Regions from separate parts of the Homo sapiens genome. Here region 2 is linked to region 1. The links come from fine-mapping of genetic effects on gene expression. A gene starts in region 1. The other region holds a variant in brackets. All regions are shown on one strand. Distances are from middle to middle. Region 1 holds the start of SRCIN1 (SRC kinase signaling inhibitor 1). Region 2 has its middle 82 kb from the start of SRCIN1.

Evidence for each region. PIP is the estimated chance that this variant, and not a neighbour inherited with it, causes the effect. A credible set is the group of variants that fine-mapping cannot tell apart.
Region 2: its variant is the best candidate, but not a certain one, in a credible set for the expression of SRCIN1 in esophagus mucosa (GTEx, PIP 0.63).

Annotation. Positions count from the first base shown.
Region 1 is chr17:38,601,312-38,613,037 of GRCh38, reverse strand. SRCIN1 (SRC kinase signaling inhibitor 1) reads left to right here and starts at 7,086. Exons shown (of 19, transcript NM_025248.3): 1 at 7,086-7,354. The coding sequence starts at 7,333. RefSeq lists enhancers at 3,210-3,880, 5,024-5,624, 5,625-6,226.
Region 2 is chr17:38,517,724-38,529,449 of GRCh38, reverse strand. No RefSeq gene overlaps it. Among named protein-coding and RNA genes, the nearest start is that of SRCIN1, 82 kb to the left of the region's middle. The variant T/C (reference allele first, on the strand shown) is at 5,321.

The DNA.
Region 1 (11,726 bases):
ATCAGAGAGGGGTGGACCTGCCACTGGGGCAGATGGCACGATGTTAGCTGAAGATGCGAAGCACAGATCAACTGTCTGCCACCTGCTTGGGAGGCAGGAACCTGAAAGGGAGGCCCCCATGGAGTGAGGGCTAGGCAGAGGAAGAGGCTTCGGGGAGCAGCCTGGGGCCAGAAAACATCTCAAGGTCCTACGAGCATCCTCTGAGAGTCCTCAGAGCAGTGCCCAGTGTTCCAGCACACCGGGAAAGGCTGTGACTCATGTGGGCACAAGCTCTTTTGTTCCAAAGAAGATAAGCTGAACTTTTCAGATGGTTCTACTCATTGAATTCCCTGGCAGACTCCTACTTTCATTATTACTTTGTTTTCTGAGGCGAGATTTGCATAGTATATTAATAAAACTAACCATTATAAAGTGAACAACTCAGTGGCATTTAGTGCTTTCATAATACTGTGCAACCATCAACTCTATATAGTTCCAGCACGTTTTCATCATCCCAAATGGAAACCTCATACCCATTAACAGTTGCTCCCTGTTCTCCCGTCTCTCCAGGCAAATCTCTGTGGATTTACCTATTCTGAATATTTCATATAAATGGAATCACACAATATATGACTTTTAATGACTGGCTTCTTTCACTTAACATGATATTTTGGTGGGGACTGGGGATTTTTTTGTAAAGATAGGGGCTTGCTACATTGCCCAGGCTGGCCTCGAACGCCTGGCCTCAAGGAATTATCCTGCCTTGGCCTCTCATAGCACTGGGATTACAGGCCTGAGCCACGGTGCCCAGCCAGCATGATGTTTTTGAGGTTCATCCATGTTGAAGCATGTATTAGTACTTCATTCCTTTTTATGGATGAATAGTATTCCATTGTATGGATATACCACAATTTGTGTATCCATTCATCCACTGAAGGACATTTGGGCTGTTGGATCATAGGGTCATTCTATGTTTAAAGAACTGCCAAACTGCTTTCCATAGCTGCTGAACCATTTCACATTCCCATCAGCAATGCACGAGAGTTCTTCCTACTTTCATCATTAACTAGGGGATTGCTATAACCTTGGAAGGCAAGGAGATGGTTACTAGGTGCTAGCAGGGGTAAAACGGATCAGGATAGTACCGGCTCCATGCCCTGCACCTTCTACCACAGTCTTCTAAGGCTGGTTGGCAGGCCTGGGAAGGCAGCTAGCTGGAGGTGGAAGGAGTCTTCCATTTTTTTCCCCAAGACATGTGAATCAGATGGTGAAATCTAGAGCCTTAAAGTCAAGCTGGGTGTGGCCCTGCAGGAGTTGGGCTTGTGGTCTACCTGGGCCTCAGTGGCTCATAATATGTCCTGTTAAGGACAGATACAGACTGTACCTTCCTTCTCCTCCTCCCTGCCCTGGCCTCATCTTTCTTGTCTTTTCCCTTTCCCTGTCAAAGGCCTTCTTTCACTCTTTCCATCTCTCCATACATCCCTCCCTCTCTTCTTCTCTCTTTCCTCCCCTCCCTCCCTCCTGCTTCCCCTCTTCTTCCCTTTTCTTCTGTTTTTCTCCACCTCTCATCTTCTCTTCATCCCAATTCTGTTTGCCCCCTCCCCTCACCCTCCATCTCTTCACTCCAGCTCCAGTCTCCTGTCTCCCTCCTCCCCCAACTAGAGCACTAAGGTTGCAGTTCACTCACCCACCCACCCGGGCAATTCTTTTTTGTTTGTTTGTTTTTTGAGAAAAAGTCTTGCTCTGTCACCCAGGCTGGAGTGCAGTGGTGTGATCTCGGCTCACTGTAACCTCCGCCTCCTGAGTTCAAGTGATTCTCGTGCCTCAGCCTCCCGAGTAGCTAGGCTTACAGGCGCGTGCCACCACGCCCGGCTAATATTTGTATTTTTAGTAGAGATGGCGTTTCTCCATGTTGACCAGGCTGGTCTCAACTCCTGACCTCAGGTGATCCACCTGCCTTGGCCTCCCAAAGTGCTGGGATTACAGCGTGAGCCACCTCGCCTAGCATGAGCCACCTCGCCCGGCCCCACCCCGACAATTCCTTTTTTTTTTTTTTTTTGAGATGGAGTTTCACTTTTGTTGCCCAAGCTGGAGTGCAATGGCGCGATCTCAGCTCACTGCAACCTCTGCCTCCCAGGTTCAAGTGATTCTCCTGCCTCAGCCTCCCAAGTAGTTGGGATTACAGGCACCTGACACCATGCCCAACTAATTTTTTGTATTTTTAGTAGAAACAGGGTTTCACCATATTAGCCGGTCTGGTCTCGAACTTCTGACCTCAGGTGATCCGCCTGCCTGGGCTTCCCAAAGTGCTGGGATTACAGGGGTGAGCACCGCATCCGGCCCCATCCCGACAATTCTTATGCCTAAGGGACCAAGTGGGAAGGGAGGAGGTGGGGAGCTGCAGGCATGCTTATGGACTGTAGCCACAAGCCCCTCTCCCCACTTAGGCCCTGGGAGGTCACCCAGAGTGAGGTGGGTGCTAGGAACCCTCTCCCTTGCGGTTATTCTCCCCTCCTACAGAGAAAGGAGATCCACTGGCATCAGCAGCACCGAGCATGGACCTGGCACACAGCAGGGGATCAGGGATCCAGTTCCGGTCTCCAGTTTGGGCAACAAAAGTGAAACTCCATCTCAAAAAAAAAAAAAGAATTGTCAGGGTGGGGCCGGGCACGGTGGCTCACGCCTATAATCCCAGCACTTTGGGATGCTGAGGCGGGTGGATCACCTGAGGTCAGGAGTTCGAGACCAGCCTGGCCAACATGGTGAAACCCGGTCTCTACTAAAAATACAAAAATTAGCTGGGCATTGTGGTGGGTGCCTATAATCCCAGCTACTCGGGAGACTGAGGCAGGAGAATCGCTTCAGCCCGGGAGGCAGAGGTTGCAGTGAGCCGAGATCGAGCCACTGAACTCCAGCCTGGGTGACAGAGTGAGATTCTATCTCAAAAAAAAAGAGAAAAGAAAAGAAAAAAGAAATGCGAATTCTCAGGCCCCTCCTCAAATCTGTTGAATCTGAGACCTTGAGGGGAGGGGAGCAATCGCTGGTTTAACATGCCCTCCAGGCAACTGGGCTTTTCCAATTACTTTCAGAGCCACTGCCCTACCACAGGGGGAGCCCTGGCTTAATGAGGGGGGCAAGGTGCCTGACTCAAGGAGCTCCCAGTCTGATGGGACAGATGGAACCCTTGCCATCTGACAGGGAAGACAGCCTTGTGCTCAGGAAATTCCCACTGGGAGGGGAACACCTCGGCTTTTCACTCCAAGCCCCTACGCTGGTCCCTCCCTGCCAGAAGCAACGGGATAAGGTTCTCTGGAGGAGGCTGGCTACGGCTCCGACCCCAGAGAACCTGCCTCCACTTTCTGTCTCCATTCTTCAGAAAGCGGGTTTGATGTGCTAATGAGGGCATCAGTTAGGGAGCATCATTAGCATTCATTACAATAACAAGCAGGGAAGCGGGGAGGGTCTTTAGAAATTTACTGCCACTCACTCCTCTCCTATGGAGTGGGAGGAGGAGCAGGAGGGTGAGGAATGTGAGAAGGGAGGCTTAGGGGCTCTGGGAGACCAGGCTGTGTTCAGAAAGCCCCAGAAGCAGGCCTGGGGCAGCGGGAAGCACCCTCCTCCTCCTTGGCTCCTCCCCCACCCCTCTTGTGCCCCAGGTGCTAGGTCACTGCCCCTGGTTACTTGACCCAGAATAGGACCAGGTCCCCAGGCCCTCACTGTCTGCAGGCCACCCTTAGTGGAATGTGGATGGTTCCTTGGGGTCTCATGAAATGCCTGGCCAGACAACAGCCCCATGGACCGGGGGCTTTCTCAAGGATACTGGGCTGGGGGTGCTCCAAAGCAGCAGAGTGACCAGTTTGGGGTGTCCCAGCCATTATTTCCACGTCACCTTTTCCCTGTGCCTTCTCCTAGAGGCCCAGATGCCCTTCTCTGCCCACCCCAAGGCCCATCTCCCTTTGCCTGCCCAGATGTTTGTCCAGATGCAACCCCTGTTCCTATTGCATCTTGGGGAAGGAGAGGCAGGGCTGAGAATTCTCTCCTCTAGGGTGCACCCCCATAACCTCTCTCTCGCAAGCTCCCAGGAACAGGTGAGGGCTGGGTGGGATGTTTGGGGAGGCAAGGTGAGTGGTTAGGATCTGCTGTTCCAAGCCCCAAACATGCCAGCTGCCCCCTCCCCACCAAATACACTGCCAGAGGCACAGGAGAGGAGGACCAGAGGGAAGTTACCTGTTGAGGAATGAGAGCGGGGGCGGGGCGGCACCTGAGGCATCTCAGGTGGAGGCAGCTGGCAAATTGGTTGTGCCTGGGCACCATGCCAGCTTACAGGAGCAATTCTCATCTCTCAGCTGAAGTAATACCTGTGTTGCTTTTGCCCTGATCAGTGGAGATGGTGTCCCCAGCCTTCTCTCTCCACCAGGAACCCCTCCTTTTGAGACCTGGTGGGAGGAGGGAAAGGCACGTATTTTTCTTGGGGTCAATGAGGGGCGATGATGCCAGGCCATCTGTCCTCTGGCTCCACTTTCAGCCTTGGGACCTTGGGTTCTATTCAGGGAGCTGTATCCCTTCTCACCCCTCCAGGAGACCCATGGAGTCAGCTGGGCAGGGTGGGTGTGGACAAAGCATCTTTGGGGAAGAGAGGGCAGAAGGGTCTCAAATGAGCTGATAGCTATGAAGATGATCAGAAATGCTAAGGATTCATCATTAAAAGGTGAGCTATACAAATTAAAAATATTACATAAATCTGATTTAAGCTCCTCACTATGGAGGTGGCCTTCATGATGAGCGAGCTCACCTTAGGGCGGGTAAAAATGGATGCTTCGTTCTGCTGACACCTTTGGAACTGTTCCAATCCCTGGGGGCTGCATCACAGAACCTTTCCCACCCCACCCCAAGCCACTGGGGTTGGGCAGGCAAATCTCCACATGATGGCACAAGCATCTTTTCAATTGTCAACTAGAGGTAATGCCTCAGGTCACTCTCTCCACAATAGGACCAGATCCCTGTCTCCTTCCTGATTATGGCATGGCTATACATCTTAACTCTCAGCCACATTCCTGATCTCAGTTCTCTTCTAACGACTATATGGTTATGAGACTTTGTGTCCCAGGGGTTGTCCCTGCTGTGGCGACCCACAGGGTTATGAGATGATGGTGATAGAAGAAAGGCAGGGAGCTTTGACATAAGGCAGATGTGGGTTTGAATTTCAACTTTGCTGCTCTTACATTGGGCAATTGGCTATATCTCTCTGATAGGGGGTTGAAAATGCTCACTTCCATCAGGCTGTCGAAAGGGTAAAATTAGAGATTATGGTAGAGCACCTGCTAATTTTCTTCCCCTTAGGCACAAAGTGGGGGAGGGAAGAAATCTTGTCCCTTGGGGGGAATCTGAGTTGGGGGCAGGTGAAGGGCAGGAGTCCTGTGCAGTCAGTGGGTGAGGAATCTGAACGGAGGAGCGACCTGTGCCAGAGCTCTGGGCTCCCAGCCGCTTGGGAGGTGGTGTCCGTGTGCTGAGGGGAAGCTACCCTTGCCTCCCCTGAGCCTCCCCCACACAGAGCCTGCTGCCTCCCATGCCCATCCTGGGCAGGCAGCCAGGCAGGGCACTGGATGGATGCCCACTGTGCGCTCAGAGGCCAAAAGATGGGCACCATCCAGTTGGCAGAGGGAGAGGCAGTTGGCCCAGGAGGGAAGAAGTCAGGGTGCCTGCCGCTGGGGTCGTGTGCCCAGACTGTGTGTCCAGGACACAGCTCTTGGCTGTCCTCCTGATCTGTCCCACTGGAGCTGGGAAGGGCCTCTCCTCTGGTCCTGGCCCTGGCATCTGAGTTACTGCAATTGGTTATTTATCTCTAAGGGGAATCTGGGACCTTGTCCCTAGCTGGGCATGTGGTTGGCTCAGGGGCAGGCCTGGGGGTGGATAGGAAATTGGGAGAGCCCAGATTAAGGTTGCAACTGGGTAGACCAGGAAGTGGGGAAACCGGTTTGTCATTTGGGCCACTTGGGGTGGGGTCTCCTCTCCTGGGCTCTCTGCCTGCCTGCCACTCTGCCTGATGGCCCACAGTGAATAGAAGTACTGTGTCCACTCTCTTGCTCACCTAAACTGCTTTTGGAAACTCCAGAAGTAAATAAAAGGGACAGGGGACTCAGCCCACCTTCTCCTCCGCAAGAAAGCTTGAGAGAGAAGGGACTGGCCAGAGCATCGGAGCGAGGGAGGGAGGGGGCCGCTGGAATCACGAGGTGTCGGCGCGGGCCTGGGTCTGGGTCTGGGTCCGGGTCAGCGCTGGAGAAGTCTGCGGAGCCAACAGGTAGGCCAACGAAGGTGGGACGCGGAGGGGCGGGGGACGGCAGGGTGGAGCCGAGCTAGTGCTCTGCGGGCTGAAGTAGAGGCGGCAGTGACGCCGCCAAGCGAGGCGTGAGCAGGGACCGTCGCTGGAGCGTCCTACGGTGGGGTCTCACTGGCCGGAGGGGCGCGGACCTGCCTGCAGTTCCCGCGCACGCCTGCAGGAGGGGCTGCAACCCGGAGCGGGGGCGAGGCGGCGGCCCAGCAGGGGGCGCCGGGGAGCCCAGACCCTCCGACCGAGCCGCGTCTAGGCGCGCTGGGGTGAGGGGTCGCGAGGCAGAAGCAGAGGAGGATCCGGGCGCTCCCAGCATGGGGCGGCTGTTGGTTTCCGCGGTCACCTTGGCTGAAGGGAGCCCCCAGTCTCGCCGCCCCGCCTCCCCACCCAGCCCCGAGAGCCTTTCCATCCCTAGGCGCGCCCGGGCTTGGAGACCCAGGAGTCCTCCACCCTCCAAGTGTCCCCGCTTCCCCGGGTGCCTCCTCCGAGCCGGTCCTCGGTCAATGTATTTGTCTCTATCGTGGCGCGAAGACTACTTGGGGTGGGACGAAGCAGGTGGCGCGGGAAGGAGAGAGTGAGCGCGCCCCGCGCCCGGCCCCGGCCGCGCGCTGCGGGATCACGCGGTGAAGCTGGAGGGCGCGAGAAGGCGCAGTGCCCCCTCCCCTCCCCCGCCCCCGCCGCCCCGGGCGGCCCTTTGTAAGTTCCGGCCACACGCGCGCGCCCGCGCCGCGCGCGCGCCCGCCCGCAGTGACACACCCGCGCCGGCCCGCGCGCGCGCAGACACACACTCAAACACACACACACTCGCTCTCGCACACTCGGTGACACGCCCGCGCGCGCGCTCACCCACACGCCCGGCCGCCGGCGCCCTCCCAGCTGGTCCACCCCGGCGGGGCCCGCGCCCCCGGCCCGCCCGCCTGGCACCGCGCCCCGGGGCTGGGGCCGAGCGAGGAGCCCGCGAGGCGGCGAGAGGGCGAGCGCCAGGCAGGCCGGCCCGGGGCCCCCGCCCCCCGCGCCCCCGCCCGATGGGGAACGCTCCGTCCCAAGGCATGTCCCTGTCTCTCTCCTCCCTAATGTGCCTCCATGCTTAAGTGGAAGGTATTTCTGTTTTCTTTGTGTGTTTTCCCCCTCGGCCGGGGGCGGGGGCGGCGGCCGGGCCGGGGAGGCGGTGGCCGGCGGGGCGAGGGATGCTGGGGCGCAGGTGTGTGGGGGCAGGGGACCGCTGTGCGCCGGGCTTGGGAGAAGGACCCGGGCGAGAGGAGTGCTGGGACCAGAGAAGGGGGCAGGGTGGCGAGGCAGGAGACTGGGTGGGGAGGGCCTCACTACGCCCCGGGGTGGGGGCCAGAGGGGTTCAACTGTAAAGGGGCTTGTGTGGAAGGGGGAGGGGTGAGGAGAAGAAGGGGGATGGATGGTGAGGAGGGTGGGGGGAGAAGGGCGTCCCTCCGAGGTGGGGGAAGTGGAGGATGCAGGGGAGGGGAAGGGGATGGAGAAGTGAGGGGTGCATCAAAGGCCTCCCTCCCCCAGCTCCCAGAATGGGGTGCACGGGCTAGGATGGTGGTGGTGGGCCCTTTGCGCCAGCCTCCAGGGAGGGAAGGGGATGAGTGCGTTCTGGGGTTGGCCGCGTTGCCAGGATACAAGCCTGTATTCCACACACCCCCCCTCCCCGCACCTCGAGGCCCTAGCCCTGGAGACCTCTGAGCCTCAGCAGCAGTTGCAGAAACTGGGGACCAGCTCCCCGCTCTACCAGCGGGTAGGGAGGGCCACGAGAGGGAGGGGTTTAGGGAGGGGCTATTTGATCTTAACCCCTCCCCCTGCAGAGGCCAGGGGGCAGGGGAGGGCGCCCCCAGCTGGGGAGGGCATCTAGGGTGAGTGAGAAGATAGGGAAGGCAGGCGGCTGAGGGGTGGAGGGTGGGGCTGGGAAGGGGACGCACCGTGGCCCCCCCTCCCCTCCCACGCACCCCCCTGCTACGTCAGAAGCTCCCGGGCCAGCTCCGAGTCCTGTCGGTGGGGGCAGCAGGATGCTGGTGGAAGCAGAGGGGACAGGCCGGGTGCCTCCGCAGCTCAGCTGTCAGGGCCCGGCGGGGCGTGTGCGGCTGCTGGTGCTCGTCCCCCAGCCCCACGCGTCCCCATGCAGCCCTGGCAGTGCCTCCGGCGCTTTGCCCTGGCCTGGTGGGAGAGGACGGCGGAGGGCAGAGCCCGCTCTCCCAGGGAGGAGGCTGGACCGAGGGACCCTGGGGGCCGAGGGGAGCCAGGTGAGCAGGCGCGGGGAAGTATGCAAGGAGGGGGATCTTCCCAGCCCCCCTCCTCAAATGTTGTGGGACAAGGAGGTCCTGCAGCACCCCAACTTTAAGGAAAGTGGGCTCCCCGAGCTGGGGGTGGGGGTTTCTGGCAGCAGCCTTTCAAAAGGAGATGGAGGAGCTGCTGTCTGTTTTGGGGAAGGGAGAAACAGGTGAGGCTTGGGAGTGAGGGAAGCTGACCAGACTTCCAGGTTTGTGGGCCTGAATGTTCCTTTGGGTGGGGTTTGAGCACTTTTGGGGGGTCGTCAGGATACCTTCTTCCCGACTCTTGGTATCTTGGTCTGGGTGACCTTGAGCCAACTGCTTTGCTGTCTAATTCCTTGCCTCAGTTTCTCTTATTCCCATCCCTTTCCCTCTTGTTGATCTTTAAAAATTGATGATGCATTTGATGGAGATTGTGAGGCTGTCGCCACTGGTGGCAGCTGTGATGGTGGTGGTTTCTGGTGTGGTTGTATGTGGGGAGCAGCTATGGTGCATTTGAGGGGTTTTGCTGGTTCTGGTTGGTGATGGGCCACTCCATACAGGTGTCAGGGACATGGGAAGGAACATTCACACAGGAAGGAGTGCTCCAGGCAAGCTGAGAGTTGCTGGGGACAGAGACTTAGCTGGTGGCCTGGGGTAGAAGCAAGGGATGGGGTGAGGGCTCTGGGCATAAGGGGAGGGTTTCCAAGAATAAGATGCACCCCCCCTCCACCCCGCTGTCCCCACCCAGACTGCCTGGCACCCAGGCACCACTGGCAGCAAGTGCAAAGGCTTTGCCCTGGCTTCCTGCCACCCTGCCTTGGGGACAAGAGGGTCTTTGTCCAGTCCCCCCACAACAATTCCTGCTTCTTCTGCCCTTTCCACGATGGCTGGTTCTCTGTGATGACCCTCAAGGCTGGGATGGAGGCACAAATCCCCCTTCTGGCTCCCACTGTCTGTGCCCTGGAGCTCTATCTGGAAGAGGCAACTGTGGTCCTCGGGGAGTGCTGAGTGGAGAGGGATGCTCCACTAGGGGAAGGGTCGCTCGAATGAACCCCTCAAAGAGCTACCCCCACCCCAGGCTTTCCCCTGCCCCTCTACTTGCCTCCTTGCCTAATGCGGAGGGTCTGGGGTCTTCGTGGCCTCATCCCTGCTGGGTTCCAGGCGTCTTAAAGATGTGCAGGATACTGGGTTGGGCACTGGGATGCAGGGCCTCTCTGATGCACTCTCGCGCTCTCTCTCTCTCTTTCTCTCTCTCTCCCCCTCTCCCCCCTCCCTTCCCTGTCTCTCTCCCTCTTCCCTCTCTCTCGCCAGGGACCCACCCTGGAAAAAGGGTTTAATTAGAACCATTGATTCCTTCTTTGGCTGTGGGCATCGACAGTGTGGTCAGAGCTAGAGGGTGGGGGTGGCATGGCTGCCATCTGCCTATGCCAACCTTGGAATTCTCTGCCAAAACCCCAGCCCTGGAAGTGCTTAGGAGGGAGGCGGCTGGGCTCTTTGAAGTACCCAGTTTGTTGAGCCCCCACCCCCACCCCAGGTTAGGTTTTGGGGAAAGAAGGGAGACAGTGTTGAGGATTTGAACTGAGGGAGCTGAGTTTGGGGCTCAAGGAAGAACAGTTCATGGCGTCTGTCATCCTGGGTAGCAGGCCTGGGGCACATGAAGAGGCAGCTGTGGTGGGGGGTGCTCTTGCAAAGGGGCCTGTGGGTGCTGGGCAGGCAGGGAGTTCAGGGGAAGGATCCAGGGCTTGCCATAAAAGCTGCTCTTTCGAGGAATCTCAAGCATTTATCTCCTCCAAGCCCTGGCAAGGAAATCTGTTTTCTTTCTTCATTTATGTCCTTGAGGCCCAGAGAGGGACACAGACTGCCTCAGAGGCCCAGCAGACTTAGGTCTAGCTTTAAGCCTGGTTTCCTGACCTAGGGACCCCTGCTTGGGCACAAGCTGCTGAGGGTGAGTCTCCTGGTAGCTGAGGCTCTGGACTCTAGGATTTGTGGGGGGTGGGGGACAGGTTGTGCCCCCCAAGTCCTGGCTGCCTGCTGTGGGTGGGCTGGTGCAGGTGCAGGCTTCAATGAGGCACTCAGATGCTCTTTGAAGAATCCCTCACTGGCTTCCTAGGGCCCATTCGAGCAAAGATAATAAAAATCTGGCCGTCAGCGGGTTTGAGGGCTGTACTCGCTTCCCCTTCTTTCATTCCAAGCTCTGAGTAGCGGAGATGAAGGCTTCGGATTTGGCTGGGAAGCAGTGCCTGCCCCGAGGGAGGAAGGGAGGGAGGCAGTGAAGGAGGGAGGACTGAGTTCCTGGCAGCCAGGGGAGTTTCTGGGGGAGGTGGGCAGAGGGGCAGGGGCATGGTCCCCAACTCCTGCCAAGCAGCCTAGAACCTCGGGGTCAGGGTTCCTCTACCCGATACCTGGGCTCCAGAGCACTCCCCTGGATGCCCTCAGTCTTCGCCCCTCCCCCATCTCTCCTCTGTGCCTTTCCGTCTTCCCATTCCTCCCCTCCCGCTCCCTGTTCGTCAATTTCTCCTGCGCTGCCCTTCCTGCTGTCTCTCTCTCTAACCCTGTCCTCGTCTCTTCTTCTGCCTCCCCCTTCCTCCCTCTGACCACCCCTCCCATTGTCTGCCTCCCCTTCCTTTCCCCAGCTCTGGCCCTGCTTTCGAGGACTGTCTGGAAGGTTGAGAAGCCAAGCTGGGGGCGGGGAAGTGGCCTCAGAAGGGATGGGCCTGGGTTAACTATTATGGTCTGTCAGGTGCCATAATTGTCAGAGTCCAGGAAGGGCTGCAGAGCACTTAGCGATGTGTGTGTGTGTGTGTGTGCGCGCGAGCGTGTGTGTGTGTGTGCGTGTGTGTGTATGTGTTGAGGGCGCCATCCCCCTCCCCACACCACAGCAGGCACCTTGCCCTGACATTGGGCTCTTCCTCCCCTGCCTCAAACACCCCAGGTTCCCTGCTCTTCTGCCCTGCCCCTCATATTTCTCTTTGCCTACCTCCAGCCTCCCGCCCCTCCAACCGCGCGGCCCCCCAGGTGCTATGCTGCCCTTGCACTGCCCCTCACACCCACCAGACCATCTCCAGGTGCAGAGGCGGTAAGGGAGGCATCCAAGAAGCCTCTCAGCTCCATCTCCCACCCATGTCTCTGATGGGCCTGCCTGGAGCCCCATCCACGCC
Region 2 (11,726 bases), 84 kb after region 1:
TGAATTGGGTCTCAGCCTCCTGCCCTTTGAGTGAGATGACCCTTGGTGGGGGTCCACCCATCTTTTCTTTCTTTTCTTTTTTTTAGACGGGGTCTCCCTCTGTCACCCAGGCTGGAGTGCATGATTACAGCTCACTATAGCCTCAACTTCCCTGGGCTCAGGTAATTGTCCCATCTCAGCCTCCCAAGTAGCTGGGACTACAGGTGCCTGCCACCACACCTGGCTACATTTTTTTGTATTTTTTGTAGAGATGAGGTTTCGCCATGTTGCCCAGGCTGGTCTCGAACTCCTGAGCTCAAGTGATCTGCCCACCTCGGCCTTCCAAAGTGCTGGGATTACAGGCGTGAACCACCGAGCCCGGCCACAAACATCTTTTCTAGATGCAGCAGCTTTCAAACCCGTAAAGTGGTAACAATACAAAATGCATTTGACACCTCTATGCTTTAGGTATGTACACACATATGCACAAACAGCCACAGCAAAGCAGCACCTGCTACACAGAGCACCATGGTGTATGCCATGGGTCCTGATTGGGTTTTACAGGCTTTCCCGGAATTCTGAAGGCTGTGCCACTGTTCCAGCATGTTCTAAGAGTCCCCGAGGCAGCCTTCCAGCTGTTCTGCGTGGCTGAGGGCTGGCATGTTACTGAATCTCTTCTCCCCCCTCAGCATCACTTCACTTCCATCCCTGAAGGTAGTGACTGTGTCCTGGAGCCACAATCTTCCAGTCATCACAGGGGCCCCAGTTGCGCTTCCTTCTCTTAAAGACCTCTTTGGAGACAGAGGGCAGCAACCTGCCTACTGTCTGCAGGGAATGCCCCTCCATGAGTCACCCACCCACCAAAGCCCAGCAACCCTTGAGACTCACAGAAAGCCAGTCCTCAGCCTGCCCGTAGCCCATCCCTATGTCCTTTTTAGAATGTCGGCAGATCTTGCCTTCTCTCTGCCATCCTATTCCCCAAAAACTGGGAGAGGAGCCAAAAAACCCCCTCTCCCAGAATCACTGCACTCATGACAGTTCAAGATCAAGTAACAAACGGAACCATCCGCTGCACGCCTGGAAGGAGGCAGGCACTCATTCACCCGCCAGATGCCTATCCAGGATGCACTCCCTGTGAGGCGCTGCTCGTCCACTCCTTGGGGCTGGGGCTCTGTCTGGCGGGAGAGCTGCCAGGACAGCCAGCAGACAGAACACAGACACCCGAGCTCAACCAAGGCAGGTGCTGGGAGAACACAAAAAAGAGGCACAGTGGCAGATGTGGCGGGGAGTAGCAGGGTCAGTCACATTTGAGAGGAGACCTTGTGGGTGGGTGAGGAGTGGGCTTTGGGGGCGCTGGTGGCTGAGGGTCCCAGGCACAAGGCCCTGGGTGGGACGTAACCAGTGGGTTCTGGAAAATGAAGGAAATCCAAGAAGAGTGAGGAGGGGAAAGTGCAGCGTGGTGGGCAGAAGCCCCCTCATGTGAGGCCTTATGGGCTGTGGTAAGGAAGGTGCCATGGAAAACAATAGGAGGGTTTAAAGTAAGAAAGTGTCATGAACTGACATGTTGTTTCAGAAGTTGTCTCAGAGTGGGCTGGACGTGGTGGCTCACGCCTGTAATCCCAGCACTTAGGGAGGCTGAGGCGGGCAGATTACAAGGTCAGGAGTTCGAGACCAGCCTGGCCAACATGGTGAAACCCGGTCTCTACTAAAAATACAAAAATTAGCTGGGTGTGGTGGCAGGCACCTGTAATCCCAGCTACTGGGGAGGCTGAGGCAGGAGAATCACTTGAACCCGGGAGGCAGAGGTTGCAGTGAGCCAAGATCATGGCATTGCACTCCAGCCTGGGCGACAAGAATGAGACTCTGTCTCAAAAAAAAAAAAAAAAAAAAAGTTAATCAGAGTGGCATGCACCTGCGGTTCCAGCTACTGGGGAGGCTGAGGTGGGAGGATTGCTTGAGGCCAGGAGTTTGAAGTTTCAGTGAGCTATGATGGCATCACTGCACTCCAGTGTGGGTGACCGAGGGACACCCTGTCTCAAATACAATACTGCCTACTGTCTGCAGGGAATGCCCCTCCGTGAGTCACCCACCCACCAAAGCCCAGCAACCCTTGAGATTACAGAAAGCCAGTCCCCAGCCCTGTCTCAAAAATGAAAAATAGGCCTGGCGCGGTGGCTCATGCCTGTAATCCCAGCACTTTGGGAGGCAGAAGCGGGCAGATCACGAGGTCAGGAGATCGAGACCATCCTGGCTAACACAGTGAAACCCTGTCTCTACTGAAAATACAAAAAAATTAGCCGGGCGTGGTGGCGGGCGCCTGTAGTTCCAGCTACTCGGGAGGCTGAGGCAGGAGAATGGCATGAACCCGGGAGGCGGAGCTTGCAGTGAGCCGAGATCGCGCCACTGCACTCCAGCCTGGGTGACAGAGTGAGACTCCGTCTCAAAAGAAAAAAAAAAAAGAAAAACCGGAACTTATCCCTCCCAATAGCCATGCTTTATTAATGTTTTATAATACTAATTGCTACCATTTATGGAGAGTTCGTTAATCTTCTAACAACCCAGACAATAGATATTATTACCTCTGTGCTATCAGTGGGGAAGGTTGACTCTGGCCAAGATTTGAGCGCGATCTGACTGCCTTCAGAGCTCAGGTTCCTGATGGAGAGGAGGCAGGCGCTACTTGACGTGTAGTGGTCGGGGAAGCCCTCGGCTTCTCTCCTTCACTGTCTGCACATCCTCTCTTGGCCCCCCTGGGCATTTTCTGACTGTTTGATCATTGAGTGGCTTAAGTGGTCCCTGAGCTCAGAGTGACAGAGCACGATCCACAGGATGGGGGCCTGGGGCTAGTGGCATCTGTGCCCCTTAACTGAGAACAGGCTTCCTCGAAGCTCACTGGTGCTGACTGGCTGATACCACTCATAATGGCACACCTGGCAGGGGGATCCCTCCATCCCCTCCCCTTTGTCATCGTTCCAGAAATCTTCACTCAAAATCTCAGCCTGTGTTTTAGTTCAGGGTGACAATCATGCTGCCTCTCCATGTCCATACTAGAAGGGCAGGGAAAAATCTCTATTCCTTTCACCTAAGCCCTCATAGATTTGGAGTTTTCCCAAAGAAATGTTTCCTGCCGGGCGCAGTGGCTCACGCCTGTAATCCCAGCACTTTGGGAGGCCGAGGCAGGTGGATCACGAGGTCAGGGGTTCGAGACCAGCCTGACCAACATGGTGAAACCCCGTCTCTACTAAAAATACAAAAATTAGCTGGGCGTGGTGGCGGGCGCCTGTAATCCCAGCTACTCAGGAGGCTGAGGCAAGAGAATTGCTTGAACCCGGGAGGCGGAGGTTGCAGTGAGCCGAGATTGCACCACTGCACTCCAGCCTGGGTGACAGAGCAAGACTCTGTCTAAAAAAAAGAAAAAAAAAAAAGTTTCCTATGAAATATATCAAACCCCACTGGAAGCCAGGCACAGTGGCTCATGCCTGTAATCCCAGCACTTTGGGAGGCCAAGGCGGGCGGATCACGAGGTCAAGAGATCGAGACCATCCTGGCCAACATGGTGAAACCCCGTCTCTACTACAAATACAAAAAATTAGCTGGGTGTGGTGGCGCATGCCTGTAGTACCGGCTACTCGGGAGGCTGAGGCAGGAGAATCGCTTGAAACTGGAAGGCGGAGGTTGCAGTGAGCTGAGATCACGCCACTGCACTCCAGTCTGGGCAACAAAAACGAAACTCCATCTCCAAAAAAAAAAACCCCCACTGGATAGGCAGAGCAAGTTTTACTGTATTTTATTTATCCTATTTTATTTTTTTGAGACAAGGTCTTGCTCTGTCACCCACACTGGAGTGCAGTGGCGCCATCATAACACACTGCAACCTCAAACTCCTGGGCACAAGGGATCCTCTGGCCTCAGCCTCCTGAGTAGCTGGGACTACAGGTGCAAGTCACAACCCCTGGCTAATTTTTCAATTTTTGCAGAGACAGAGTTACCAAGGCTTATTTTGAACTGCTAGACTCAAGTGATCCTCCTGCCTTAGTCTCCCAGAGTGTTGGGATTACAGGCGTGAGCCAGCAAGCCTGGCCTAGAGCAAGTTTTAGAGTACAGTTTGTTATTGTTTGTATGGCTGCTTTTTTTTTCTTTTCTTTTTTTTTTTTTTTTTTTTTACAGAGTCTCACTCTGTTGCCCAGGCTGGAGTGCAGTGGCACAATCTCAGCTCACTGCAACCTCCGCCTCCTGGATTCAAGCGATTTTCCCGCCTTAGCCTCCTGAGTAACTGGGACTAGAGGCAGGTACCACCACGCCCAGCTAATTTTTGTATTTTTAGTAGAGACGAGGTTTCACCATGTGGGCCAGGCTGGTCTTAAACTCCTGACCTCAAGTGATTTGCCCAACTCAGCCTCCCAAAGTGCTGGGATTACAGGCACGAGCTACCACGACCGACCTGTTATGGCTTTTTTAAATTATTTATTTATTTATTTATTTATTTATTTGTTCAAGACAGGGTCTTGTTCTGTCACCAGGGTTAGAATGCAGTAGTACTATCTCGGCTCACTGCAGCCTCGACCTCCTGGATTCAAGCAGACCTCCCACTTCAGCCTCCAGAGTAGCTAGGACTACAGGTATGTGCAACCATGCCTGGTCAATTTTAGTTTTTTGTACAGCCCAGGTCTCAGTATATTGCCCAGGCTGGTCTCAAACTACTGGGCTCAAGTGATCCTCCCACTTCCACCTTCCAAAGTGCTGGGATTACAGACGTGAGTCACCATGCTTGGCCTGTTACACGGCTTTATTGAGATTTATTTCACATACCACAAAATGCACCCTTTTAAAGTCTACAGTTCAGTGATTTTTAGTATATTCACAGATATGTGTGACCATCACCACAATCGAACTTTAGATTATTTCAACTCCCCGAACCCTGACCACTTGACAGTCATTCCCCATTCCTGCACCCTCCTCTCTGCCACCTACCTCCTCACCCCGACCCACAGCCCTAGGGAATTAGTAATTTACTTTCTATCTGTATGGATTTCCCATTGCAGACACTTCCCACAAATGGAGTTATACAACATGTCGTCTTTTGTGACAATCTTCTTTCTACATGTTTCCAAAATTCATCTATGTTGTAGCATGTATCAGTACTGATGCAGGGCAGACAAGCCCCCAAATTGGGGTTTAGCAGAGGAGGATTCTTGGTTTTGTCCGGGAAATAATTCAAGGGTGAGCCGGTGGTGTTAGACAGCAGCTTTTATTGAAGCGACAGTGCACAGCAGCAGAGGTGCTGTTCCTTGTGGAGCGGGGCTACCCCACAGGCCTTGTGCTCAGAGTAGCAGCTCAGAGG[T/C]GGGTCTGCACTCATAGTTATACCCACTTTTAATTGTATGCAAATTAAGGGGTAGATTGTGCAGAAATTTGTAGGAAAATTTTGGTAACTTTTGGGTCATTGGGTCGTTGCCATGGAAAGGGGTGGTAATTTCTGGCTGTTGCCGTGGCAATGGTAAACTGAAATGCTGCACTGGTAGGTGTGTCTTATGGAGACCTGCTTCCACTCCATCTTTGTTTTAGCTAGTTCTCAATTTGGTCCAGTGTCCAAGAACTGACTCTGGAGTCGAGTCCCACCTCCTACCTCAGTATTTCATTCTTTTTTTTTTCTTTTTTTCTTTTTTTTTTTTTTTGAGACAGAGTCTCTCTCTGATGCCTAGGCTGGAGTGCAATGGCATGATCTCGGCTCACTGCAACCTCTGCCTCCCAGGCTCAAGCGAGTCTCCTATCTCACCCTCCCGACTGCAAGTCGGGACTTGTAGCTGGGACTACAAGTGTGTGCCAGCATGCCCGGCTAACTTTTGTATTTTTAGTGGAGAAGGGGTTTCACCATGTTGGTCAGGCTGGTCTTGAACTTTTGACCTCAAGTGATCCACCCACTTTGGCCTTCCAAAGTGCTGGGATTACAGGCATGAGTCACCGCGCCCAGACTGAATAATTTTCTCTTGTATGGATATATCATATTTTACTTATCCATTCATCAGTTGATGGATATTTAGGTTGTCAGTACATGAACATTTGTGTACAAGTTTTTTTTTGTGTGTTGACATATGTTTCAGCTCTCTTGAGTATATCCTAAGGAATAGAATTGCTGGGTTTTACAATAACTCTAGGTTTAACATTTTGAGGAGCTGCCAAACTGTTTTCCAAAGTGGCTGCCCCACCAGCCATGTAATAAGCATTCTAATTTCTCCACATTCAACACTTGTTATTGTCTGTTTTTTTACTGCAGCCACCCTAATGTGTATGAAGAGGTAGCTTATGGTTTTGATTTGTATTCCCATGATGACTACTGATGTTGAAAATCTTGGCCGGGAGCGGTGGCTTATGCCTGTAATCCCAGCACTTTGGGAGGCTGAGGCAGGCGGATCACGAGGTCAGGAGATCGAGACCATCCTGGCTAACAGTGAAACCCCATCTCTACCAAAAATACAAAAAAATTAGCCGAGCATGGTGGCGGGCGCCTGTAGTCCCAGCTACTCGGGAGGCTGAGGCAGGAGAATGGCGTGAACCCGGGAGGCGGAGCTTGCGGTGAACCACTGCACTCCAGCCTGGGTAACAGAGCGAGACTCCATCTCAAAAAAAAAAAAAAGAAAATATTTTCAAGTATATAATAGCTATTGGCATATCTTCTTTGGATAAATGTCTTCAGATCCTTTGCTTATTTTTATCCAAATTGGGTTGTCTTTTTATTGTTGAATTTTATTGTTCTTTATATATTCTAGATATGAGTCCCTTGTCAAATATATGATTTGCAAATGTTTTCTCCCACCGGGTGTGGTGGTGCATGCCTATAATCCCAGCTCAGGAGGATCACTTGAGCCCAGGAGGTCGAGGTTATGGTGAGCCATGATCATACTGCTGCATTCCAACTGGAGCCACAGAGTGAGTCCCTGTCTCAGGAAAAAACACACACACACACACACACACTTTTTTTCTTCCATCCAATGATTGGTTGTCTTTTCACTTTCCTAATAGTATCCTTTGACACACACAGTTTTTAATTTTTATGAAGTCCAATCTATCAATTTTTTTTCTTTTATAGCTTGTGCTTTTGGTGTCGCAGCTAGAAGATCCTCACACCTCAGCCTCCCAAGTAGCTGGGACTACAGGCATACACCACCATACCTCGCTAATTAAAAATTTTTTTTTGCCTGCGCATGGTGGCTCATGCCTATAATCCTAGCACTTTGGGAGGCTGAGGTGGGCAGACCACTTGAGGTCAGGAGTTTGAGACCAGCCTGGCCAACATGGTGAAACCCCGTCTCTACTAAAAATATAAAAATTAGCAAGGCGTGGTGGTGGGCGCCTGTAATCCCAGCTACTTGGGAGGCTGGGGCAGGAGAATCACTCTAGCCCAGGAGGTGAAGGTTGCAAGGAACTGAGATCGTGCCACTGCACTCCAGCCTAGGCAACAGGGTGAGACTCCATCTCAAAAAAGAAAAAAAAAAAGAGAAAAACATTTTTTTGGTAGAAAGGGGGTCCTGCTATATTGCCCAGAGTGGTCTTGAACTCGGCGTCTGAAAGCGCTGAGATTACAGGACCTGCCACCACACCCGGCTAATTTTTGTATTTTTAGTAGAGATGGGGTTTCACCATGTTGGCCAGGCTGGTCTCGAACTCCCGGGCTCAAGGGATCCACCTACCTCAGCCTCCCAAAGTGCTGGGATTACAGGCGTGAGCCACCGGCCTGGCCTCTTCTCACATTCTTGATGATGTCTCGTGACATACAGAAGTTTTAGATTTTTCTGTTTTTTCTTCCATTGTTCATGCTTTTGGTGCCAAATCTAAGAATCCATTGTCACATTCAAGGCCATGAAGATTTACCTTATTTTTTTTTCTAAGAGTTTTAGATTTTATTTTAAAGTCTATGATCTATTTTGAGTTAATTTTTGTAGACAGAGTGAGATAGTGGTCCAATTTCATTCCTGTGCATGTGGTTATCCAGTTGTCCCAGCACCTTTTTTTTTTTTTTTTTTTTGAGATGGAGTCTTGCTCTATCGCCCAGGCTGGAGTGCAGTGGTGCAATCTCAGCTCACTAACCTCCGTCTCCCAGGTTCACACCATTCTCCTGCCTCAGCCTCCCGAGTAGCTGGGACTACAGCCGCCCGCCACCACACCCAGCTAATTTTTTATATTTTTAGTAGAGACGGGGTTTCACCATGTTAGCCAGGATGGTCTCGATCTCCTGACCTTGTGATCCGTCCACCTTGGCCTCCCAGCATGCTGGGATTACAGGCGTGAGCCACTGCACCCAGCCTCCAGCACCATTTTTTTAGAAAAGATTATCATTTGCCCCATTGAATGGTCTTGGTAACGTTGTCAAGTGTCAAATTGACATCCAGTGTGTATCATGGATGTAAAAAATATATGTATCTGTTGACCATAAATGTTTGGGTTTATTTCTGGATTCTTAATTCTTTTCCATAGGTCTATATATCTAGCCTTATGCCAGTACCACACTGTTGAGATTACTGCAGCTTTGTAGTAAGTTTTGATATTGGGAAGTGTAAGTACTGCTACTTTGTTTTAAATTTTGTTTTCACTATTTGAGGCCCCTTGGAGTTTCCTATTTCATGGATTCCTTAGAATTTTCTACATACAATCTCATGTCATCTGCAAATAGAGACAGTTTTACATCTCTATTTGTGGATGGCTTTTATTTCTTTTTCTTGCCTAATTGCCTGGGCTAAAACTCCCAGTAGAATGTTGACTAGAAGTGGTAAGAGTGGACATCTTGTCTGTTTCCTGATCTTAGAGGGAAAGCTCTCAGTCTATTAATTTAATAGCATGAAATACGATATTAGCTGTAGTTTTTTTTTTTTTTTAGACAGCGTCTCCCTCTGTCACCCTGGCTGGAGTGCAGTAGCTCAATCATGGCTCACTGCAGCCTTGATCTCCTGTGCTCAAGCAATCCTCCTACTTCAGCCTCCCAAGTAGCTGGGACTACAGGTATGAACCACCACGCCTGGCTAGTTTTTGTATTTTTTGTAGAGACGGGCTTTCACCATGTTGCCCAGGCTGGTCTTAAACTCCTGGGCTCAAGCAAGCCACCCACTTCAACCTCCCAAAGTGCCAGGATTATAGGCATGAGCCACCCTGCCTGGCCTAGCTACAGATTTTTCATAGGTATGTTTATCAGGTTGAGGAAGTTTCCTTCTATTCCTAGTTTATTGAATTTTATAATCATAAAAGAGTGTTGAATTTTGTCTTGCTTTTTCAGCATCTATTGAGATGATCATGTAATTTTTATTCTTTATTCTCTCAATTTTGTGTGTTTCATCGATTGATTTTCAAATATTAAACCAACCTTGTATTCCTGGGATAAATCCCACTTGGTCATGGTGTATAATCCTTTGTATACGTTTCTTGATTTGTTTTGCTTGTATCTTTTTGTTGTTGTTGTTTTGAGACAGAGTCTCGCTCTCTCTTCCATGCTGGAGTGCAGTGGCGTGATCTCAGCTCACTGCAATCTCTGCCTCCTGGGTTCAGGCAATTCTTGTGCCTTAGCCACCAGAGTAGCTGGGATTACAGGTGTGTGCCACCACACCCAGCTAATTTTTGTATTTTTATTAATAGTAGAGATAGGGTTTTGCTATGTTGGCCAGGCTGGTCTCCAACTCCTGGCCACATGTGATCTGCCTGCCTCGGCCTCCCAAAGTTCTGGGATTACAGGTGTGAGTTGTCACACCCAACCGGTTTGCTGGTAGCTTGTGGAGGACTTTTGTTTCTATAGTCACAAGGGATATTAGTCTGTAGTTTTCTTGTGATATCTTTTTCTAGCTTTGGTATCAGGGTAATACTGGCCTCACGGTTGCTTCCTCTTCTTTTTTTGAAAGAGTTTGTGAGGGATTTGTATTAATTTTTCTTTAAATATTTGATAGAAATCACCAGTGAAGCCATCTGGGTCTGGAATTTTCTTTGTTGAAAGTTTTTAAATGACTAATTCAATCTTTTTCCATGTTGTAAGTCTGTTCAGATTATTTATGAGTTCTCCTTCTTATGTCAGTTTTGGTAATTTATGTCTTTCTAGGAATTTTTTCATTTCTTCTATTTATCTAACTTGCTGGCATGCAGTTGTTCACAGTGTTCCCTTATTATCCCTTTACTTTTGTGTGTGTGTGTGTGTGTGTGTGTGGAGATGGACTCTTGTTCTGTCTTCTAGGCGGAGCGCAGTTACACGATCCCAGCTCACTGCAACCTCTGCCTCCCAAGTTCAAGTGATTCTCCTGCCTCAGCCTCCTGAGTAGGTGGGATTACAGGCGCCCGCCACCACGCCTGGCTAATTTTTTTATTTTTAGTAGAGACAGGGTTTCACATGTTGGCCAGGCTGGTCTTGAACTCTTGACCTCAAATGATCCACCCGCCTCGGCCTCCCACAGTGCTGGAATTACAGGCGAGAGCCACTGCACCCAGCCCCCCTTTACTTTTTATAAGTATTGATAGCTCCCTTTTCATGCCTGAGGTATTAATCTGAGTCTTCTCTTTTTTTTTTCTTGGTCAGTCTAGCTAAACAGTTGCCAATTTGTTGATCTTTTCCAAGAAAAAACTTTTGGTTTTACTGACTTTCTCTATTTTTTCTATTTTCTATTCCATTTATTTTTACTCTTACCTTTATTATTTCCTTCCTTTGGCTTTCTTTTGGTTGAGTTTGCTCTTCTTTTTCTAGTTTCTTAAGGTGGAAGTTTAGGTTATTAATTAGAAATCTTTCTTCTTTTCTAATATTGACATAGTTACAAATGTCTCTCTAAGCACTGCTTTAGCTGCATCCAGTAAGTTATGTTATGTTGTGTGTTAGTTTCCATTCATCTCAACATATTTTCTAATTTCCCTGTGATTTCATCTTTCACTCATTGATTATTTAGGAGTGTTTTTAAATTTCTACATATTTCTAGCCAGGCGTGGTGCCTCATGCCTGTAATCCCAGCACTTTAGGAGGCCAAGGCAGGCAGATCACTGGAGGTCAGGAGTTCGAGACCAGCCTGGCCAACATGGTGAAACCCTGTCTCTATTAAAAATACAAAAATTAGCCGGGCATGGTGATACACTCCTGCAGTCCCAGCTACTTGAGAGGCTGAGGCAGGAGAATCACGTGAACCCAGGAGGCGGAGGCTGCAGTGAGCCGAGATAGCACCACTGCACTCCAGCCTGGAGGACAGAGCAAGACCCGCCTCGAAAAAAAAAAAAAAATTCTACGTATTTGTTAATTTCCTTGGTTGTCATTTTCTAATTTAATTCCATTGCAGTTGGGGAACAGACTTTATGTAATTTCAATCCTTTTCCATTTATTGAGGCTTGTTTTAAGGCCTAGTATAAGTCTACCCTGAAGAGTGTGTCACGCGTAGCTGAGAACAATGTGTGTTCTGCTGCTGTGTGGAGTGTTTCGATGTCTTTCAGGTCTTGGCTTACAGTGTTGTTCAAGGCTTCTACTTCCTTGTTGATCTTCTGCCTCGTTGTTTTATCCGTTATTGAAAGTGGGGGCCGGGCGCAGTGGCTCAAGCTTGTAATCTCAGCAGTTTGGGAGGCCAAGGTGGGCGGATCACGAGGTCAGGAGATCGAGACCATCCTGGCTAACACGGTGAAACCTCGTCTCTACTAAAAATACGAAAAATTAGCCGGACATGGTGGCGGGCACCTGTAGTCCCAGCTACTCGGGAGGCTGAGGCAGGAGAATGGCGTGAACCCCGGAGGCGGAGCTTGCAGTGAGC